2 linked regions of the Homo sapiens genome follow. The protein of the gene in region 1 interacts with the protein of each later gene in a pairwise test. Each region holds a gene or a part of one and is shown in the gene's direction. Other genes may lie near its edges. The genes, in order: SLC15A2 and ANKS1A.

Region 1 (3,813 bases):
AGTTTGGGGCAATGTTGATAAATTTAGTTTTGAACATGTTGCATTTTATATGTTCTTGGAATATTTAATTGGAGTTACCAAACAGTTATTTGGAAATACAGGATTAGAGCTTAGAAGAAATGTTTGCACTATAGATATAGATCTGGAGTCATTAGTATATGGGTAGCAATAAACCATGAAATGAAGATAGATAACTAAAAGCTAGAAGAGTAAGGTTAAAAAAAAAAGTGGGGTGGGGGGATAGGTTCAAACTTCAAGAAACGCCAGGATTTAAAAGACAGGCAAAGAGGAAAAGCCCACAAATGAGACTAAGAAGGAATGGCCAAAGTGGTAATAGCGTTATCTTGGATATGAAGAAGATTTCAAGAAAAGATTCATTTAGAGTGATAAATGTTCCTGAGTGGGAGATTAAGATAAGGGTGACAGATGTCTATTAAATACAACAACAAGGAGGTCACTGATACGATTAGATCAGTTATGGTAAATGGTGGAGGCTGAAGACTGATTGGAGGAGACTGAGAAGTAAATGTTACAGGATTCCTTCAGTGCTGCTTTGTCAGCCAGAAATCTCTGTGGCCACTACCGCCTCTGTCTGGGCCTTGCTCTGGCCCACTGGGCTCGCTCAGCCTGCGACTGGACTGGGCATGTAGCGAGCAGCTTCTGTGTTGGGTGCGGCATCTAGACAAGGGGAACACGGTGGCGCCCAAAAACTCGGAGATGCTAGCAATTGCAGAGTCCTAAGAGGTGTTATAGCTCCTGCTCAGGGAGTCCCAAGGTCTGAGCCCCCAGAAATGTTACAGCTGTTCACTCCTGTAGTTCAACGAGCAGGAGCATGTTACAACTCTCTCCTGTAGTCTAGCGAGCGGGAGCGTGTTACGGCTCTTTTATTCCCGCTGCCCATAGCTTGGCGAGCTGCCCAGGGGTGTCACAGCCCTTTCATTCCCATCACCCACAGCTCAGCAAGTTCCGGGTTCTTGTCCCATGATGAAGAGGAATGGGGTGTGTGGACACCAGAGAGTGAGTAAAGCAGAGAAGAATTTTATTGAGTGGCAGAAGGAAAGCTCTGAGCTCCTAGAGGGGACCCGAAGTAGGTAGCCGTCTGTGAGGCTTAGTGTGGGTTTTTTATGGGTTTTGAATGGGGGAGTACATGCTGATTGGTCCATGGGTGGGTTTGGAAAAAGTACCACTAGATTGGTTAAAAGGCATCATCCAAAAGGAACCAATGGAGAGAGAGGATAAGACGGAGATAGAAGTTCTCACTCAGGTCATGGACTCTATCAGGAACCGGCAAGTCGGTTTTCAGGCTTTAAACTGTCTTTGGCTTGAAGGTCGGGTTTCACTGGGACCCGTCCGTGTCTGCCTAGGAATTTATCTGTCTCTTGTCACTATCAGTAAGAAAGTGAAATAGTATTTATAGTTGGAAGGTGACATGGATTCAAGAGAGGATATTGAGCATGTGTGAATATTATTAGGAATAATCCAGTGGAGAAAGAGGTTGAAGATACAAGATAAAGACAGTATAATCAGTATGAAAACACATATGAGCAAATTAGCTGCGGATAGGAGGAGGAATATCACCTTCACCTACCTGGAGGGAGGACAGGATGAGTGTGGATACAAGAATTAATAGATCTGGTGGCAGGGAGTTGAAGGAGTTTCCATTTGAAGGTTTCCATTTTCTTTGTGAAGTAAGAGGCAACATCATCTACTAGAAGGAGTAGATAGTAGAGAAATTCAAGGTTTATACTCATCTTCTTTAGTTAAGTGTCTTTGACATGTAAGTATGACTTTAGTTGATTACATAAGTCTTCCTATTATCACTCCACTGTCACTATTGCAACCAGCATTCCTGTGGTGTCCAGCCTCTTTCTAGGATCATTCTTAGTTTCAGGAGCAGTTTATTCCCTACCCAAAATTTTCCTTTGTCCAGGTATCTCTTTTTTTGTTTTTTATTTTTTACTTTTTTTGGAGACATAGTCTCACTGTGTCAGCAGGCTGGAGTGTGGTGGCGCAATCTCAGCTCACTGCAACCTCCGCCTCTGAGGTTCAAGTGATTCTCCTGCCTTAGCGCCTAAGTAGCTGGGACTACAGGTGCGCACCACCACGCCCAGCTAATTTTTGTATTTTTAGCAGAGATGGGGTTTCACCATGTTGGCCAGGTTGGTCAGCTCAATCTCTCGACCTTGTAATCCATCCGCCTTAGCCTTCCAAACTGCTAAGTTTACGGGTGTGAGCCACCGCGCCCAGCCGTCTAGGTACTTTTTTATCTGCCCACTTGACTCTCAGGATTAGCATTCCTCCACTGAACTATTTTTTCTATCAACCATGAGAAGGGTATTATAGATAAAGGATGCTATTTGGAGAAGCTTTGGGGAAATTGAGAGGATGAATGAGAAAAAGTGGTAGAGTGAATCTAAATGAGACGAATGGAGATATTAAAAAGTGATGGGAGAGAAAAGTAAAGTGATTTGTGCATTCTGATGTGTAAGGATACTGGAAAATGCTACTTGTCACTGAGAAAATCATCTTTAGCAGAGGATCTACTAGAGGGGCATCACGCTGAAGCTGGGAAATCCGTTAAGGAGGAAAGTGCATCTGGGAGGGAACCAAGATGGAGTATTTCTACTGATTTTAATTGAATGAAATTGAAAAAACCACTATTTTATAACTACAAAGGTAATACCAGCTCATTGTTAATTTGGAAAATAAAAGGAAAATTAAAGAAATGAAATTCCCTTACAATTAGCTGTGGATATGTGGTTAAAGGACAGAGATATGGGCTGAAAGAAACAGAATGAGCTCAAGAACAGAAATAGTATAGAACAGAAGTGTTTGTATAAATGATGAATAGTGTTTACAGCATAGGGTATCTCAAAAAGATAGATGAAATATAAAGTGGGAAACGGCAGGTTGAGGTGAACTCCTTTGAGGACAGGGACCTTGTTTTTTTCACCTGTGTTACCAGTAGTGTCTAGTACAGTATGTGGTGTAAGAATTAGTGAGTGAGATGCATTATAAGGATTAAATACATAGATTTTTGAGTCAGTCAAGCCTCAGGTCAAAAGTCCAGTTCTGGTATCTTCTAGCAGTGTAACCTTGTACAAGGTGCTTAATTTCCTTAATATTCCTTCATGTATAAAATAGAGATAGTGGTACATATTTTGTCAAGCTAAATCAATTAATGTATGTAAAATGCTTAACAAGTTACATGTGATAAACCTTCAAATAGATGTTAGGGATAACAATAACCATTAGGATAACAATGAATTTGGGAAGGTCTTTCATGCCAGGAGTTTGGGTCAGGTAAGTATTAATAGATCCTGGAAAGAAACATTTGGCATCAGATTAAAGAAGGAAGAGACTAGGGAATGAGAAACTAGTTGGTGGCCATTTTAATAATCCAAAGTACAAGTTGTGAAGTCCTGAACAAGAGTGGTAGCAGTAGTAAAGTGAAAGAGGGGGCAAATAGGCAATACGTTAAAGAAAGAGGACCAATAAAACTTGGTAACATTTCAGATATGGAGATGGAGAAAGAAGAGTAAGAAGTCAAAGATGACTTCCACTTCTGTGATTACATGAAAGTCTCAATAGATATCTCTCTTAACAACATACCATTTTGTCTTCTCTTGGCTCCTGCAATTTTGATAACTCCAAAAGTCAGGAAATGTAAGTCAGCTCCCTCTTTATGAGATTTGCCAGCCACTCCCACAGTTCAGCATTCTGTCCTTAGCGCTGATATACTGAATGTGCTATTTAGGTTTGTGCAAAAGTTATTGTGGTTTTTGCCATTGAAAGTAATGGCAAAACTGCAAT
Region 2 (3,965 bases), on another chromosome or scaffold:
TGAGGAGGAAGGCCTTCCGTAGAACCAACGAGGAGGCGGCCTGTGCCCTGCACACACGGCGCACCTTCTTCCCTCACAGAACAGAGCTGCTGGAGGACAGGGACCTGGACCAAGTGGCCTCCATTGTCCTCTGGGAGCTTTCTGACACTCTCCACGGTGGGGGATCACAGATAGACAGCGCCGTCCAGCATGCCCCTGACCACCTCCCTCAGCCTCCTGACTCCTCCGAAAGGAGAGGCCGTCCCATCGCAGCAGCTCAGAAGCTGGGATGGTGGAGCTGAGTCTTTGAAGAGGCACCCCATTCTCCAGTGTGGGCAAATCAGTTTGGATGGCAGGAGACAGGAAGGAAGCGGCGCCCATAGGCAGCCGTGCACACATAGCAGAGTCCACTAGGAAAGCCAGTCGGCCAGGGCAGTCAAAACCCAAGTCGATAAACTGGGTGGGTCCTGCGTACCCACCCATCCTTGTGCCTTCCTGAGCAGAGTCACTGAGCCAGAGGCAGTGGGGGCTGCAGGCTGTGGGTGCTCAAAGCAGGCATGGAGGGTGCCCCGGGGAGGCTGTGAGGGATCGTCTGTCCTGCTCTGTGTTTCCTTTCCATTTCCTCCACCGTCCGCAGGCCCCATTGGTTAACCCTTTCCTCCCCCCATTGTTTGCTTCTGCCAAGCTGAGCCACTGAGGAACCACACTGTGCTGCGGAAACATAGACGTGGGGGCATAGGCTCCCACTGCCACCACCGCCATCGCCTCACCTGCAGCTCTGAAGACCCAGGCCTCACCTCCGCCTGCAGGACCTCCTCTTGGCCACTTGGCCTGGGCCTGCCACCACCACGTCCTGCAGAACGAGCCCTGCCTTGGCTGTGGAGAAGCACTCCAGGCCGCTAGCAGATGGGACTGGCATTCCAGAGGGTCAAGAAGTGACTTGTTCAGAACACATTGTTTTTAACAGAAAAAAAATCTTTTTATAAAATGAACTTTTAACACTTGGCTCAAACCTCTAGGTCATACTGCCAATCTTTAGACAAATGGCCATGGGGCAGAGGACAGGGGAGCTGAGGTTGGTTCAGAGGCCAGCCTGCATAGCCTCTGTCCTCAGGACGGAACTTGGGTGCAGCTCAGTGGGTCGGAAGAGAAGGCGGTGGCCTGTGGGTGAGGGGAACGGAGCAGGCTCAGGCAGAATTGAGTACGGTGCGTCTGCTTTTCAAACCCAACCATATCAGCTGCTGCTCTTTATGAACTGCCCAACTTCCTGTCCCTTTCAGGGGCTAGACACAGGCTTCTCGTAAGAACACAGCCTTAGAGGCACCTGAGCAACTCAAAGGTTTCCGGTCCATTTCTGGGGTTCCCGATGGGAAGGTTCAGTGGCCAAATGAAGATAAGTGTGCAGTTTCTAGTGCTGGGAAGTCTTAGCCAGCACCAGAGCGCCAGGCCTCTCCCTGGCCTCTTACCTGTCAGTGATCGGAGCACTGCCCTGGGCTGGCCGGCGCCGTACTGCCTGCGTTGTGTCAGAGAATAGGAAAAGCAGCTTTGTTTGGGGCATTAATGCTTGGAGTGGGGTCAGCTAAGGTTGCTACTTGCCAATTTGTGATTTGTCTAATCAGCCTGTGTGATTGGGGCTCATTTTGATTCTCTGAATTATCGGTTTGACGGTTACACTTGGCTGCTGGGCCCATCCCTGGCCCCCGGTGTGGAAAAGGCTAAATAAGGTGACAGTGCATCGATGCTCCCCCGCGTGGCCTTTGGGGCAGGCTGGCATCCCGGTGCGCCTCTGCTTCTTAAGCTTTCCTGCTGCTCGCTTTGTTTTTAAAAGTAACTTGGGTTGCATTCTTCCCTCTGGACTAGAGTAGAAATGCAGGGGAAACTGCTGTGGATTTGAGAGGCAAAGTTGGCTCAGCTGTGTGCCCAGTTCCTCCTGTGGGCACTTTAGCAGGCTCCGAGCTTTCCTGGCATAGGTCAATCAGGTCCCAGGATGAATAATCCAGGCTTCAGCAACACTCCTCTTTCCCAGCCAGCAAAGGCTGTGAATTTGAATTCTTTGTTGGTATGTATGTGCAGGGAGTACTGTTAGGCACATTCTTAACCCATGTGGTTGGCCAGAAATCAGAAGTGGGGCTGTGTCTCTGACTGGCTAGAGGCCAGGCCTTGTGGGTTTCTATCTGCTAAGCACCCAGCAGGTTGGGGCCTGGGACTCAGCTCTCTCTGCGGTAGAGGCAGGCCCTCCTCCACTTCTTGGTACTAAACGAAGATCTCGACACCTTGCAGTTTTACTTCATTTCCTGCCCCTTTCAGGGCCTGTGAGGATGCCCATGAGCTACCGCTGTACAGTTCTCGGCCCCGGCTTTCTTCCAAGAGTTGACCAGGAACCCTAAAGCATCCAGAGTAGACTGCGCTGCCACTGCGCACATGCTGGTGCCCGTCTTCCTCCTAAGGGGCCAGGCCACATCCAAGTGGGCCTCTGTCGGGGGCGGGGCGGTAGGTCCGAAAGAAACCGCAGACACTACGATGCACTCCTCAAGCTGTCTTTTGTGCTTAGATCATCCATAGGTGTTTCTTCTGCTTGAAGCTGCTATATCATCTTTATTTATTCAGGGTATTTTCATATTGGAAGCCTTGGCTAGTCTGCTCTAGCTCTGGGTTCTGTTTAGAGATTGGTTTATTTCTGAATATTCAAGAAAGGAAAATGACTGGGCCTTTCTTTCTTTTCTTCTCCTCTGGGATGGGTAGTCTCCCTTTCCTAGAAAGGTTATTATAACTTTAAGGACAGGCTTCAAGTGGGAAGGCCCCTACTTTTGCACTTCTCCAAGTGCAGGTCACACCAGGGGCAGACCCTGTCGCTGCGTTTCTGAACTGTGAAGGAGCCCATTCGGGTGGGAGACTTCAGATGGGCTCAGTACCTGTCCCAGCCACAGGCTTCTTGTCCACCTCTTCTCCCCTGCCCACCAGCTGCTCAGCGCATAAGACCTTCCCGACAGGCTCTGCGTGTGCAGCTCTCTGCGTCCCTCCTGGGCCCTCCAGCGTCAGACACTAATGGGAGTTCCCGAGATGCTCGGGTTTGAGCAGGGAGCAGGCAGAGCTGCAGTCAGAGACATTAGAAAACCAGTCTGAATTGGGTCTGTCTTTGAGATGCCCAGGCCAGCAGAAAGCAGCTCAGAAGTATTGTTGCTCATGGTGTGGCAATGGACTGAACTGTAATGAAAATGTTATTTAATCTTTGTCTCTGTATTTTGATACTTGAATGACTTTCCCTTTTGTTTTACTGTATATAAAATTGTTAATCTGTCTGATTTTGTCTGAATTATAAACACTTTGAGGTACCAAACATAACCAATCTGTGCAACAACATAGACTGACCTCAGTACCCAAGAGAGTGTAAATATTTCTGGGCTTCCAGCTTTGGTTTTGTTATTTTCATAACTGTACACAACTTAGAACAGACTGAATTAATAAATGAGAAGCGACATGAACGCAGCCTTAATTCTTCTGAGTCTTTGAATTGGAAAGCGTCTTGATGGTTTTCTGGCAGAGGCGTGGGCACAGGCGAGACGCAGGCTCAGGATCAGTGATTCGCATCCTACACCGTTTGGCTGAGATGACGACAGCTTGGCTGTTTGGCTTTCTGTCTCGCACTCTCTAACAAACAGTTAGTTACAGCTGTGCTGTGAGGCGCAAGGGCCCCAGGATTCACCTTCCCCTCCTTAGGAACATCGTTCTGTGAACACCAAGCCAGGGCCACATTCTAGTTACTGCTGCAGTGGCATCTCTTCTGCCTCTTGGTCTGGGCTTGTCCACCCATAGACATGAACCGAACATCTGCCTCCCAGGCAGCCTGGGGGATCTAGAGCTGTGAAAGAAAGTGCTCTCCTTTCAGGAACTTGCTTGGATTGCAGAGGTTAAGTTTTAGACATAAACAACTAGCTACCAGCCCGAAGCCGTGCTATGGTAGGGATGCAGAGGGCAAAGTGTTCCCA

Evidence for each region.
Region 2: the proteins of SLC15A2 (region 1) and ANKS1A interact in a two-hybrid assay, tested with the Homo sapiens proteins (one large-scale study listed by BioGRID).

The regions. Positions count from the first base shown.
Region 1 is NC_000003.12:121,918,347-121,922,159, forward strand, and holds part of SLC15A2 (solute carrier family 15 member 2), read left to right. Parts: intron 1-3,813. UniProt on the Homo sapiens protein: Proton-coupled amino-acid transporter that transports oligopeptides of 2 to 4 amino acids with a preference for dipeptides. Transports neutral and anionic dipeptides with a proton to peptide stoichiometry of 2:1 or 3:1.
Region 2 is NC_000006.12:35,087,942-35,091,906, forward strand, and holds the end of ANKS1A (ankyrin repeat and SAM domain-containing protein 1A), read left to right. Parts: exon of another isoform or gene 1-658; intron 659-664; coding exon 665-668; 3' UTR 669-3,465; downstream 3,466-3,965. UniProt on the Homo sapiens protein: Regulator of different signaling pathways. Regulates EPHA8 receptor tyrosine kinase signaling to control cell migration and neurite retraction.